4 linked regions of the Homo sapiens genome follow. The protein of the gene in region 2 interacts with the protein of the main gene of each other region in a biochemical or structural test. Each region holds a gene or a part of one and is shown on either strand. Other genes may lie near its edges.

Evidence for each region. The genes of interacting proteins can lie anywhere in the genome.
Region 1: the proteins of GOPC (region 2) and F11R interact in a test that uses a peptide from one of them, tested with the Homo sapiens proteins (one large-scale study listed by IntAct).
Region 3: the proteins of GOPC (region 2) and TANC2 interact in a test that uses a peptide from one of them, tested with the Homo sapiens proteins (one large-scale study listed by IntAct).
Region 4: the proteins of GOPC (region 2) and ABCC4 interact in a test that uses a peptide from one of them, tested with the Homo sapiens proteins (one large-scale study listed by IntAct).

The regions. Positions count from the first base shown.
Region 1 is NC_000001.11:161,000,653-161,004,152, forward strand, and holds part of F11R (junctional adhesion molecule A isoform 1 precursor), read right to left. Parts: intron 702-3,500; coding exon 633-701; intron 476-632; coding exon 368-475; intron 126-367; coding exon 1-125. UniProt on the Homo sapiens protein: Seems to play a role in epithelial tight junction formation. Appears early in primordial forms of cell junctions and recruits PARD3.
Region 2 is NC_000006.12:117,568,012-117,571,511, forward strand, and holds part of GOPC (Golgi-associated PDZ and coiled-coil motif-containing protein), read right to left. Parts: intron 2,945-3,500; coding exon 2,849-2,944; intron 1,848-2,848; exon of another isoform or gene 1,726-1,847; coding exon 1,561-1,725; intron 1-1,560.
Region 3 is NC_000017.11:63,354,235-63,357,734, reverse strand, and holds part of TANC2 (protein TANC2), read right to left. Parts: intron 2,953-3,500; coding exon 2,345-2,952; intron 1-2,344. UniProt on the Homo sapiens protein: Scaffolding protein in the dendritic spines which acts as immobile postsynaptic posts able to recruit KIF1A-driven dense core vesicles to dendritic spines.
Region 4 is NC_000013.11:95,067,452-95,070,951, forward strand, and holds part of ABCC4 (ATP-binding cassette sub-family C member 4), read right to left. Parts: intron 1-3,500. UniProt on the Homo sapiens protein: ATP-dependent transporter of the ATP-binding cassette (ABC) family that actively extrudes physiological compounds and xenobiotics from cells.

The DNA of each region.
Region 1 (3,500 bases), on a different chromosome or scaffold from region 2:
GACCTCCCCATAGCTGTTGCCGCCTTCCTCAGAGACCATACAAGTGTATGTCCCAGTGTCTTCCCGTGTCACGGACTTGAAGGTGATACCAGTTGGCAAGAAGGTCACCCGGTCCTCATAGGAAGCTACCACAAGAGGAGGCAAGAGCAAGGACAGAGTGAACTGGAGAGCTAAGGGAGGCTGATGAAGGGGGCATCCAAGGTACGCAAGTGCTCTCCTCTTCCCCCAGAAAGGGGGGTAGGAAGGCCATGAGGACTTCAGCCCCAGGGTGTGCCCTGGGATAAGGGCACAAAGTCTGGATCGTAGAATCCAGGCATGATAATCCCTCCACAACCTAGGCAATCAGGAAGGAGGAGAAGCAACTCACCTGTGATCTTGTTATTATAGCAAACGAGTCTGGTGGTGTCTCCTTGGTCAAACTTCCACTCCACACGGGGAGAAGAAAAGCCCGAGTAGGCACAGGACAACTTCACAGCTGCAGACAGGGTCAAAATGAGCCGAAGGAAGAAGCAGCAGCAAATACACGAGATGGGGAACAGCCCCAAACTGCAGGCTGGGCTGGGTGCTCTCTAGATCCCCAGGCGGCCGGCAACTGCTCACCCTCACACCCTCCATGGCCCCTCCCAACTCACGATTATTCTCAGGAATTCTGACTTCAGGTTCAGAAGAGTGCACTGTAACACTGCCCAATGCCAGGGAGCCTAAGGAGAAAGAAAGAGGTGGGCCCTGTCAGGAGTGGACAGAGAAATGCCAGGAAGAAGGAGTCACAGACCCAGTGGACAGGGCTTCTCCATTCACAGACCCTAAGAGGAAGGGATTCCAGACTTATGCTCCCTCTGGCTCTCACACTTTGTCACCATGATCCTAAATGTCTTCTTTAAGTGCTTTTTGCTACAATTGCCAGCTAATACTTCTTTTATCCATGGGAATGCAGTTTCTTTTGCTTCTAATTTTTCTCTCTGTGACTCCCAATAATCTAATTAGATTTCTACTAGTCCAAGGGCAGCTTCCAGAATGACATTTCACTGTTCAGAGAAAGCTTCTCAACAAATGATTGCAGCCACTTGTCAGGACAATCCTGGAAGGAAGCCAGCAGGGCTGGAGGCAAGGGATGGAAGGGAAGGGCAGAGCCATGATGAGGATAATAATAATACTCGACATTTGTGGAGCATGTGGTGCTTTTAAAAGTGTTTTCGTGTACATTATGACACGTTGCATCATTTGATCCTGGACACAAGCATGACAGATCGGCAAGACGTATATTATTATCCCGAGTTTACATGAGGAACTGAGAGTACAAGAAGTAAATGTGCCTAAGATCACACAGCTGGGGCCAGGTGCGGTGGCTCAGGCCTGTAAACCCAGCACTTTGGGAGGCCGAGGTGGGGAGGTCATGAGGTCAGGAGTTCAAGACCAGCCTGGCCAATATGGTGAAACCCCATCTCTACTAATAATACAAAAATTAGCCAGGCATGGTGGCACACCTGTAGTCCCAGCTACTTGGGAGGCTGAGGCAGAAGAGTCGCTTGAACCCGGGAGGCGGAGATTGCAGTGAGCCGAGATCGCGCCACTGCCCTCCAGCCTGGGCGACAGAGCAAGACTCAATCTCAAAAAAAAAAAAAAAAAAAAAACACACAACTGGTTCTGAGGTGAAGTTTGCACTAGAAGTGGGTTCAGATCACCTCATTAGAATATTCTACTTGCCAAATGGAGAAAGAAAAGAAAAGATAGTGTGTGCTGGGTGGAGGGAGGGAGAAGCAACAAGGCTAATTAAATAATATGGGGGAGGTGCATCAGGGTTCATAGGAGGGACCCACAAAGGTCAAATTAAGAACCAGTGACCAGGGATTCTGGGATCACATGATGCAGCTACAAACCTGCACTTACACAATTATTCTCATCCATGTTTTCAAAGTCAAATTCATGAAATATCCTTTTATTTGTAGCTTCAAGTCAGGACCCTGTCTTAGATAAATGTTTGTAGAAGTCAAGCACATCTGTTAAATTCAAGTACATTTTTCTTTTACTTAATTATGCACATAACTGAATATGGTCTCTTGACCTCTGAGACTCCCCTTCCTCTCTGAAATATGAAATAGATGTGCTCTAAAGTCCTTTAGGTTCTTTTTTTTAAATTTTGGCATTAATGTTTAGATAATATTTGTATACCTGTATTTCAATCTGATATAATAACACTATGAATTAGTCCAGATAAGTATTCTCTCTCCCATTTTATAGATAAGAGACTAAAGATATAGGTTACTCCTATATCCTTTTTCTCTTATTATACTCTCTATTTATTTGTTTTTTTTTTTTTTGAGACGGAGTTTCACTCCTGTTGCCCAGGCTGGAGTGCAATGGCGCTATCTCAGCTCACTGCAGCCTCTGCCTCCCAGGTTCAAGTGATTCTCTTCAGCCTTCCAAACAGCTGGGATTACAGGCGCTTACCACCATGCCGGCTAATTTTTGTATTTTTTTTTTTTTTTTTGAGACAGAGTTTCGCTCTTGTTGCCCAGGCTGGAGTGCAATGGCGCAATCTCGGCTCACCGCAACCTCCACCTTCCGGGTTCAAGGGATTCTCCTGCCTCAGCCTCCCAAGTAGCTGGGATTACAGGCATGTGCCACCATGCCCGGCTAATTTTGTATTTTTAGTAGAGACAGGGTTTCTCCATGTTAATCAGGCTGGTCTCGAACTCCCGACTTCAGGTGATCCGCCCGCCTCAGCCTCCCAAAGTGCTGGGATTACAGGCGTGATTAAGCCACTGCACCTGGCCTAATTTTTGCATTTTTAGTAGAGATGGGGTTTCACCACGTTGGCCAGGCTGGTCTCAAACTCCTGACCTAAAGTGATCTGCCCGCTGCAGCCGCCCAAAGTGCTGGAATTATAGGCGTGAGCCACGGCGACCGGCCTAATTTTCTTTTTTTTCTTTTGTTTTTTTGTTGAGACAGAGTCTCACTCTGTCGCCCTGGCTAGAGTGCAGTGGTGTGATCTCGGCTCACTGCAACCTCTGCCTCCCACATTCAAGAGATTCTCCTGCCCCAGCCTCCTGAGTAGCTGGGATTACAGGCGCCCGCCACTACGCCTAGCTAGTTCTAACTAGTTTTTTGTATTATTATTATTATTTTTTTAAGATGGAGTTTTGTTCTAGTTGCCCAGACTGGAGTGCAGTGGCGCAATCTAGACTCACCACAACCTCCGCCTCCCAGGTTCAGGAGATTCTCCTGCCTCGGCCTCCCTAGTAGCTAGGATTACAGGCAGGCGCCACCATGCCCGGCTAATTTTGTATTTTTAGTAGAGATGGGGTTTCTCCATGTTGGTCAGGCTGGTCTCGAACTCCTGATCTCAGGTGATCCACCCGCCCTGGCCTCCCAAAATGCTGGGATTACAAGCGTGAGCCACCGCGCCCGGCAATTTTTTGTATTTTTAGTAGACAGGGTTTCACCATGTTGTCCAGGCTGGAATTTCTTTTTTTTAAAGAGCTGGGTTCTTGCTACATTGC
Region 2 (3,500 bases):
AAAACCCATCTCTACAAAAAAAAAAAAAAAAAAAAAAATTAGCTGGCCATGGTGGCAGGCATCTGTAGTCTTAGCTACTCAGGGGGCTGAGGTCGGAGGATCTGTTTGAGCCTGGGAGGTTGAGGCTGCAGTGGTCCGTAATTGTGCCACTGCACTCCAGCCTGGGTGACAAAGTGAGATCCTGGCTCCAAAAAAGAAAAAAATGTTACAGATCGTTTTATGTTAAAAGAAAAATTTCCAAGCTATAATTGTCATTTAATAAGAGACTCCAACCACTACATATAAGTGTGGTGTTGGCAATTCTGAAAACTATGGCTTGCCTTTGCTCAAAAGAAAACACGGCATTTTTGACTGCTACTCACTAAGTTAGTCTCTTTGGTGCTCTTCTTTCCCAGCAGTTTAAGGTTATACCTCAGAATTTTAATATGTGCTTAGTTAGCATTTCCTTAAAACTTATGGCTGCCCATTGATAGCTCCTTCACCAGTTATCCCACTCTTTTGCTACTGGATGACAGTCAAGATGGATTGATAAAACACTAACTTAAGAGAATAGCGTAGCATTCTTAGATCTCTCTTGTCAGCTAATGCTTTAAAAATACCATTTTGCAGAAAGAGACAGATGATGCAGTGGTCTTCAGCAAAGTTTTAGATGACAGAATTAGATCTGTGAGTAGCTGTCATGGAGACACAGATTTCAGGCTTAATATGAGAAAAAGCTTTCTAAAAATCAGTACTGTATTACAATGGAATGGACTGGTTGATATCAGCAAGTCTTCCCTGTAATGTAATTATTGAAGTAGTGATGTTGCAAAGATTTATGCATCATATAGAATTGAACCAATGAACAATATTCACTTTCAACTCTGAGATGCAATTCTACAGAGGCATACCACACTGATAATCCAAGAAACATCTCAATGTACTACCAATGCCTCTAATTCCCTCAACTCTATTCTTGAAAGAAATAAAATAAAACAACATTTTAAGTACAACTGTATGACAAATATGACTCCTGAGTATGAATCTCAATTCTATAATTTATTTGCTTGGCAACTTTGAGTAAATCCTTTCATCGCTAAGAACTTTAGTTTACTCATTTTAAGAGAGTTGGGCTAGATAGTTTCTATGTGTGATTTCAATTTTAATATTCCATGACTAAAATCAATCTACTTCTAGCACTGTCTTTTCTGTAATACCTTATATATAGTGTTCTAGGCATTAAGGATGTTGTTTTTTCAGTCTCAGGTCCTGTTCTGAGTACTTTATATGTATTAACATACTTAATCCTCACAGCTTTCTTTCAATCCCTCCCACACAGGTGAGGACACTGAGGGACAGAGGACTTAAGTAACTTGCTCAAAGTTATGAAGTAAACAAAATGGAATGGTCCATTTTCAGTAAATCTGACTGAATGTCAGCTATAAAAGCATTAAATCAAAGGAAACAAGAACTATGTGTAAACACTTTACTACTTTAGAAACTTCGTAGGGAAGTATACAGTGTTCAATAGATTCATAACCAATTGATAGATCCAGTTCTAATTACATGAAGGGAATTTACCTGCTGAGAAAGAATAGTTACAGCTTCTTTATGCTTTGTGTCCCTTAGGTTAACTCCGTTGACTGCCAAAATAGCATCCCCAACGTGCAGCCCTCCGCATCTATCAGCAGGTTGCCCCGGATGGATCTCAGAGATGAGGATTGGAACACCATGTTCTTTCCCACCCTAACAACAACAAAGGGCAGTAAATTAAAGTACTCTTTGTAAGGTACAGTTACCGATTAATCTAGAGATAAAATATTTTCTTAAAAATATATTTCATTAAACACCTATGCTGTCTCTATAAATGCTGGGTAAAATTTTATTTGCTACTTAAGTAATGGTAAAAATTATCAGAGTATTGAACAGAAATTGGCTAAATTCTTAAATTAAAAAAAACTTATGTGTTAGTACTCCATAGCACCATTACATTTTATCAAGTCTAAATCACTACGAATGACAAGACCAATTATTTTAGGTGCCACAAAAATAATTTTAAGATTATAAGATAAATTTCAATTTCAGAGAAGTTAAAATATGAAAATATATGCAATGTAGAATTGAAAAAATGCAGTATTTGGTACCTATCACTCTCTAGCTTATATCATTGTTGCGTGTGTGTAGGGGTGTGTGTGTGTGTCTTATTTGTCCTGCTAAAATGTATGCTCTTTGAAGGCAGCACATAAAAAAAAAAAAGGTAAGTATTCAAGAAATATAGATTAGATGAGCTTTTTATTATAAGAAACATTTCTACATTAAGCAATACTAAAAAAACAAATGATCTTGCTCAGTGCCTAAGTATTACCAAATGAAAATTAAAGCCACCTTATTCATTAAAGCACTGAGATGACAACAAAATGACTCCTAAAGGCATCGAATTTAAAAAAAAGAATATATAACATTTGGACCCAAGAGCCAGTGAAATCTGACAGCTAATAAATGAGGCAAGAGAAAGATACACGTACTCCGAGAGAGAACAATACAATCTGAAGCCATTTAACATAGAAGAAAACAGCCACGTCTATTCCCAAGGGCTCCTAGAGGCATCACAGTATATGGCACAGAACTATTAAGTGAATCATAATAAAAATGTTAAACTATGCTTACTAAAGGTACACTTAATAGTTGCTAGGAATATTTATTTCTTAAAAAAATATTTACACAAAAGCAAACATTTATCCCCATGGGGATAAATTTTAGTTATTTAAAAAATATATCCAGAATATTCTGTTCCCCAGTGATGTCCAACAAAGGAGCATGATTATACTAGATAACTGTAGAAAATGATACTGGAAGTACTACTTCTTACTGTAATTGAAATGCCAAGGCCTTCATGATCTTCCTTAAGGAGGAGAACTTTTCTAATTGGACCAACACCTTGGCTTTTCTTTAGGGAATCTTGATCCTTATTGGGAGGAAAAAAGAAGAAAAAGTAGTATCATTTAAATAGCATACCAAATAGAGTAAACTCATACTATATAACTTGCTTTTAGAAATCTGTATTAACTTCCTGGAATGGATAAACAGTATAGGGTTAAGAAAGTAACAGATAAAATGGAAAAATGAAAATAGCTATTCTGTTGATGCAAAATTTATAGATGATATTCTCACCCTTTTGCCAATAATGTTTAAAATATTGATACATCTCTTTTTAAATTGTAGGGCATTATAAAAGAAATGATTTCCAGGAATTAATTGAGGAACAAATATCCTCAAAAAATAAAAGTGTCTATCTTCACTGGATATCTTTAAGATATACATTCATTTTAGCTGAGTTGTAGAGTTGAAAAACAAATTTCCAATTGGACCATTAATTACTTATACATTCCTTGGTGCTCTGGAGTCTACCTCTTAAATAAAGGGCCTTGATCCACTAATAATCTTTTCTCTGGTACCCTTACTCTTTCTGTCTCTACTAAGCTGTTTTCCTACTCAGCAGATAAATGAATCACAAGCCTCTT
Region 3 (3,500 bases), on a different chromosome or scaffold from region 2:
TGCCAATAGCATTAAATTCTTAGTGAATTTCCATCTCATTGACCTAGGGAGCCTTAAGCACTGAGATCAATACTTCAGTACTTTAGTAACAAGGTTGGTGCCAGCCATTGCTGGGGAGGGGGCTGAGTTCCAACTGAAATGAAATCTAAGAAAGCTTTTTTTGATAACTCCTGGTCCTGTTTACAATTTTACTCTCTGCCATTAAGTGAAATAAGATGATCTCTCAGCAGCCATGCTATTCAATCATCAGGGAACGGATTATACAGGATTTGAAGTTGGAAGTACCTGCTCCTCTTGTCCCAGTGCATCAGTCGGTTGCTGCAAAACTCCTAGTTAAAATGCGATGTTGAGAAGGCAAAGCCTGTATAGTCATGATATGGCTGTATAAAAGCCGTATTTTCTCCTCTGAGAGCCCCTGAGGATTTCATCTGTTGTAAGGATACTATTAATTCAGTGGTAGTCTGGTTGCCTTGGACCTCAGCTTTCAATCCTCTGAGATGTCCCAGGATCTAAGGTCCCAGATCAGCTAGCAAAGTTTCTCTGGGAACTGATCTCAAAGCGTTTATTAGGCAATTCTACATTAGTTTCTTTTTCCTATATACATAGTTGCCAGTTCTTTGTATTAAATATTGACAACAGCTCTAGTAGGATTTATAGTAAAATCCTTTTGGGAACATCATACAATTCACAGAAGGGACTTGGATTGTTTTTATTGTTTCTTTTTAAAATCTTGTGCTCCAAAATGATAACAGCAGAAGATGGCTGTCGCTATCCGATTAGCCACAGGATTTAACTAAGATACACCAGAAGGGTCTATTACTGCAGGGTGAGGGGAGGAAAAAGAACATACCCCAAGTGTTTCTTTTACTCTGTACTATTCTAGGCATCATACTATATGACCTCACTTAACTTCTCAACAACTCTAGAAAAAAGGCATTATTATTGCTCTTATGTAGATAAGAAAACTAAGTCTTAGAAACACTATGTAACTTTTTCCAAAGGTCAAAGTTCCTAGAAGAGGCAGGATTTATATGCAGGTAATTTGACTCAAGAGTTTATGTTCTTTCCACTACAGCATGTTTCTTTAAAAAAGCTTCCCTCTCAGAGAAAATGCTACAAAGTCTATTGCCTGGCTTAATATCTTCATCATAATCTGGAACTAATTTTCTGATGAATCAGCATGGAGTAGGCTGAGCAGCATGCCCACAGTACAGTTGTCTCTAATAAGGCCTGGTGAAGGACACGGTGAAGGGCAATAAAACCCCAGCATGAACACAGAGTTTTATTCTTTCTGATGAGTCACATGTGAGGCATAGTCAAATCTGGCCTCTTCTTTTTGAGCCAAAATAAGCTCTGCATTTGCCAGCTATGTTGTTGGTGTCTTCTTTGTTTCCATGAAGTCAGTAATGTACCCGGCTTTTGAAAACACCAACTTTATTAAAGGAATACGTCTTTAAAAATGTTAGTATGACGGAGTAAAAGCACACCCCGACCAGGATGCCAGAGAACTAGGTTTCATGCAATAAAAAGGGAAACAGTTTCATATCTAGTCTGGTTTGAGTTGAGAAAGATTCTCAAGTCAGGTTCAAGCTCATTGGGAAAGAGTGCTGGGGTAAATCAGTGATCCTGTTGTGCGTGTGGGGTGGGGAGTGGTGGGATATATCATGCACTTGTGATCCCTATTCTGGTGTGTGCCCCTCCCTTCTCCCATGTATTAACCTTATGACTTTGTGCAAGTTGATCCAGCATCTTAAGGCCTTTATAGCAAAATGGAGATAATGACACCTTACGTATCTAAAGGCAGCATGGATAGACCAGCTGATCTCTTCAAATCTTTTTCAGCTAGGAGGTTTAAGATTGTATTTTCTAGTATAAAGCTTAGCATTGGCTGGACTTTAATGGATTTAGTCACTGGAAACTTTAAAAATGATAAGGTTTTATAAAAGGGCAATAAAAACTTTGAAATGATTCTGCCCTAAATCAAAGAGATTTACAATATATCAATTCTTTCTTCATATCAGAATAATAATACTGAGGAAGTCCATTAAATGGTTAACTTAATTATAGCCTGTGAACCCTGTGGGGTCAGTGAAAATTATTTAGAAGAACACAGGAACGTAGGATAGCATTCTAAATATCTATGCAGATGTTGAGTCTTAAGGAAATAACATTGTAAAACAATAAATTAGTTAACCTCATTATAGCCTTGCCTTGAGAAGAAACACAGATGATGTCTCTTCTATGTGAAATGTTCAATGAAGAACACTTCTACTTTCAATACTCACACTCCATGCAATAAACAGAAAACAGACTCAGAATTGTTTATCACAGATATATGTCTTACCTCGGATCACAGAGAAATTTGGTTTTCTCTCCTTCTTCTCTCCAGATAAGCCATTCTCGAAAAGAAGGATGTACAAACATACGAGTCATGTCTCTGCGCTTGATTAGGAACATGGAGAGGTTCTCCATTCTCTGCTGAAAATCCTCCCATTCTAGTGTGCCTTCAATGCTCCCAGCATTGATGGCCTGGAAGATATGCTCATCAGTCAGTGGGTGGAGAGAGGCCACTGCCACATTCAGGAGAGGCATCACCCGGTCAAAGGAAGACTGGGTTGGGAACTTCATATTGCACTGGAGTAAATAAACCTCTGAGAGCGAAACAGGAACTACTTTGTAGCTAGAGCTCTTTAACACTAGATAGCCTTTCTCTATGAGGTCAAATGTAAGTTTCAGATATAGATAGGACCCTTGACTGAGGGTCTTGAGATGAGAACTGAGTTTGCCAAATGTAGTATTGTCCATTTTGCCATTAAGTGAAATGTTATTCTGGATCTCTGAGCTGCTGTGTATCCGGTGCAGGATGTAAGCCTGCAGGTCCTGGTCTATGGCTTCATTCTCTTCTAGTCGATCCAAAAAAATCCTATGGAAAGGCAGCAGCTTGGTAATTTCCTAAAAAGATGGAGAGAGAGAAAGAGACAGAAAGACCTTCAGTTTCCCCTAACTCTTGTGATAAACTATGAGGTTCACAAATGTATTCTGAACTTCGAAGTGGCCAAACAGGGAAACATGATCAAGTATTAGTATCCAAAAAGTAAAACAAATTAGTTGCATAGAAGGGACACAACTTCTCCTAACATTGAGACTTAAGATATATTTTTAAATGGGTCTTTGTAAAGAGTGCTTTTGGAGTGATTTCATGATCGTCATTCTAAACAACACTCCTGAAATAAATAGAAAACGGAGCACTGTATAACTCTTTTGCTGTAATTTTTCTCAGTGTAAACCAGGGCATAATGCCAAGTACAAGTCAGTAAGAGAAATGTACAAAGATTCAAAGACTGGCTTAGAAAAAGTTGGCTTTCTAACTCTCCTAATAAAATGACTATTTAAAAAAAAATTTCCCACACAACACAGATGTATAAAATGACTACATTTAAATGCGGGCCTTCTGGAGATACCTTAGCCGAAAGGTACACTTCTAACAGTAGGAAGCTTGG
Region 4 (3,500 bases), on a different chromosome or scaffold from region 2:
AAATCACAGATTATTAGTCATCCAAAATTGCTTACCGGAGAGCAACGGCTTTAATGCAGGGGCAGGAGTGGGGGTGGTTCTTGTCCCAGTGCAATTTTAATCAAAAGGGTGGGGTGGGCCTGACAGTCTGCATTTCTAACATGTTTCCAAGCAGAGGCAGGTGATGCTGATCCCAGCCCCTGAGATGAGCAAGCAGGCAGGGCAAGTGGGACAATCTGGCTGTGAGAGGAGGGGTTTCTCAGCAAACATTAATGTAAAAAAGGAGAGAATATAAGAAACTAATATTTTTGCACACTATAGCAAGGTCTAGTACACATCTGTAAAAAGGTATTATCCAAGTAATAGCTTTGAGCAAGGAAAAAAAAATAACAAACCAAAATCAATCTACCTCTAGAGCTGAAAAATGCTTTAAAATGGCCCAGTACTCTCTAAAATGATTAAATCAACCACAAAACCATCTAAATGAAAAATGCAGCCAGTGTTTGGAATCTAACCAGGAAGGCTAGGGTGGTATATACCTCATTTTGGTTCATTCTTTTTTACTTGCTATTTCTTCTGTGAATTAGAAACCTACTTAGCGCCTATTACTTTTTCCTATTTGTTATAATGTCCAGGAAATCTGAGCAGATGAAGCAATTGAAAGAGAATGAAGCCCTGTTTCTGCTGTGTGGACACATTCCTACATCTCCACTGGAAACAATGCCCCTCTCCATCAGCTCCAACAGCAAAGGGACTGCCTGAGATCCTGGGGCTGCAGGCAGGTGTGGAGGAGACGAACCCTGAATATACACACAAAAAGTGGAACCAACTCACCACGATGTTGCCTGAATACACAAATGAAGCTAAAGGTGACACTGTGAGTGAACCAGGACACAAATCAAAAGCCAAGTGGGGCTCAGCGCAGTGGCTCATGCCTGTAATCCCAGCACTTTGGGAGGTCGAGGCAGGTGGATTGCTTGAGGTCGGGGTTCAAGACCAGCCTGACCAACATGGTGAAACCCCGGATCCACTAAATATACAAAAATTAGCCAGGCATGGCAGCGGGTGCCTGTAATTGCAGCTACTCGGGAGGCTGAGGCAGGAGAATCGCTTGAACCTGAGAGGCAGAATGAGCCAAGATTGCGCCACTGCACTCCAGCCTAGATGACACAGCGAGACTCTGTCTCAAAAGCCAAGTGGTTGTAGCTATAATTCAGTCTTCAAATTCAATTTACCCTCCCACATTTCAGATCTCAGGTAATCCTATGATTTGGGGGGGTTTTAAGATGGAACGATATCAATGTGGGGATATAGGTTGTTTTCTAATGTGTACAACAGAGGTTTGTAGATAATTCATATTTTATGGCTACAAGAGAAATTTACAACGTGGCCAAACTAACAGAATGATGTTGATCAGGTAGGACCTAATAACACATTGTCTGAGAGTAAGCAAACATCCCCCTGGCCCCATCAGGAACAGAATCTGAGAAACCTTGCTTTCAGCAAGAGCTACAGCTGATGCTGCCTGCAGAGTGGTCTCCACCTTCTTCACACTCACAAGGATGCTGGGTAGATAATGAGGAATCAGCTTTTGCTGGTTCCCTGGGTATCTTCTGGGCATGAAGCTGTATATTTATTTTTCATGGCACAAGGGTATCATTCATTCAATTGTGACTATAGCCCATTAAATGGGTCTGTGGTGGGAAGAGCTGAAAAGAGCAGTTCCGAAAGTATCTAACACTGACACCCAGAGAACGGGCTGTTGCGGGAGCTGTCGTGTGTGTTTTGTTACCGATTTCTTTGTATGTGCATATCCCTCACTCTCACAGGCACCCACCATGTGCCCTGCAGCATGCCATTTTCTGGGGGTACAGAGACGAATATAAAATGCTCCCTGACTTTAAGAGGCTCAGGGTACTGTGAGATGCTGACCCAGAATTATAAATCATGCCATCGTGCTATCTTCTTTAAAAAAAAATTGTGGTAAAATACACAAAAGGTACTTTATGTACTTTTCAAATTGTGGTAAAGTAACATAAAATTGATCATTGTAATCACTTGAAAATGTTCAGTTCAATTATATTAAATACATTCATGTTGTTGGGCAACCGTCACCATCATCCATCTCTAAAACTCCATTTATCTTGTAAAACTGAAACTCTGTACCCATTAAACACTAATGCCCATTCCCCTACCCCTGCCGCCCACCATCCTACTTTCTGTCTCCATGACTAACTACTCCAGGTACCCACATGTAAGTGGAACCTTATAGCACCGTCCTTAGGTGTCTGGCCTAATTCACTCAGCATAATGTCCTCAGGGCTCATCCATGTCAGAATCACACATGTCAGCATGTGTCAGAATCACCTTCTTTTTAAGTCTGGATAATATTCCATTATGCGTGCGTATCACATTTTGTTTTTCCATTCCTCAGTCAATGGACACTTGGGCTGCTTCCACCTACTGCTCACTGCAAATAATGCTGTTATGAACACGGGTGGGCCACAGATGTTACATTAAAGAATCTGGCCAGGCATGGTGGCTCATGCCTGTAATCCCAGGCATGATTTGGGAGGTTAAGGTGGGCGGATCACTTTAGCTCAGGAGTTCGAGACCAGCCATGGCCAACATGGCAAAACCTGGTCTCTACTAAAAATTCAAAAATGAGTTGGGTATGGTGGTGCACACCTATAATCCCAGCTACGGGGGAGGTTGAAGCAGGAAAATCGCTTGAACCTGGGAGGTGGAGGTTGCAGTGTGCCGGGAATGTGACATTGCACTCCAGCCTGGGCGACAGAGCAAGACTCTGTCTCGAAAAAAGAATCTATAAGATGATGTGGAGAATATAGTTTCAAAGAGGCAGAGATGCTTGAACTGACTGAAAAGGGTGCACACTAAGAGCAAGGCAGACAGGTGCTTGGGGAGAAGGAGGGCACCCTGAGTGCAGGGGATGTGTGTCCATATTGGGAGTTGTGAGGAGAGGGGTGGGAAGGGGAAGAGATTCTACTGTCTTGTTTGTTCTGGTTTAGTTCCTTCAAGAGGCTGTCCTAGTCCTAGCCAAGGGCCCCAGGACACATGTGAAAGGGACATTGCTGGCAGACTTAGATACCTGCAAAACCAGCTCACAAAACTCCACACAGCCTCCCAAGTCCCTCCTTGTTTTCCTTTCACTGACTTTGAGTGAGTCTCTGGTGCCTTTACTGCCTCCAGCTTGGGGGTCTGATTTCTGAGCACTGATGGGGTCATGGGATCTGGGTCTTCCCTTGGGGGCTGAGAGCCAGACAGGTCCTGTCAGGGTGGGCCTGGGGCTCATTAAGGTTGCAGCAGCTGCTCACCCAGGCAAGGAGCTGGCCACGTAAGGATCAGATCTGTGATCAAACTGTTTCAGAAAGAAAGAGTTTGCAGTGAAAGGGATGGGGAGGGAAAGCAAAGCACAGGTTAAAGGAAGGCAAGAAAGACTAAGGAAAGGGCCTGATAATGTTTGGCTGTGTCCCCACCCAAATCTCATCTTAAATTCCCAC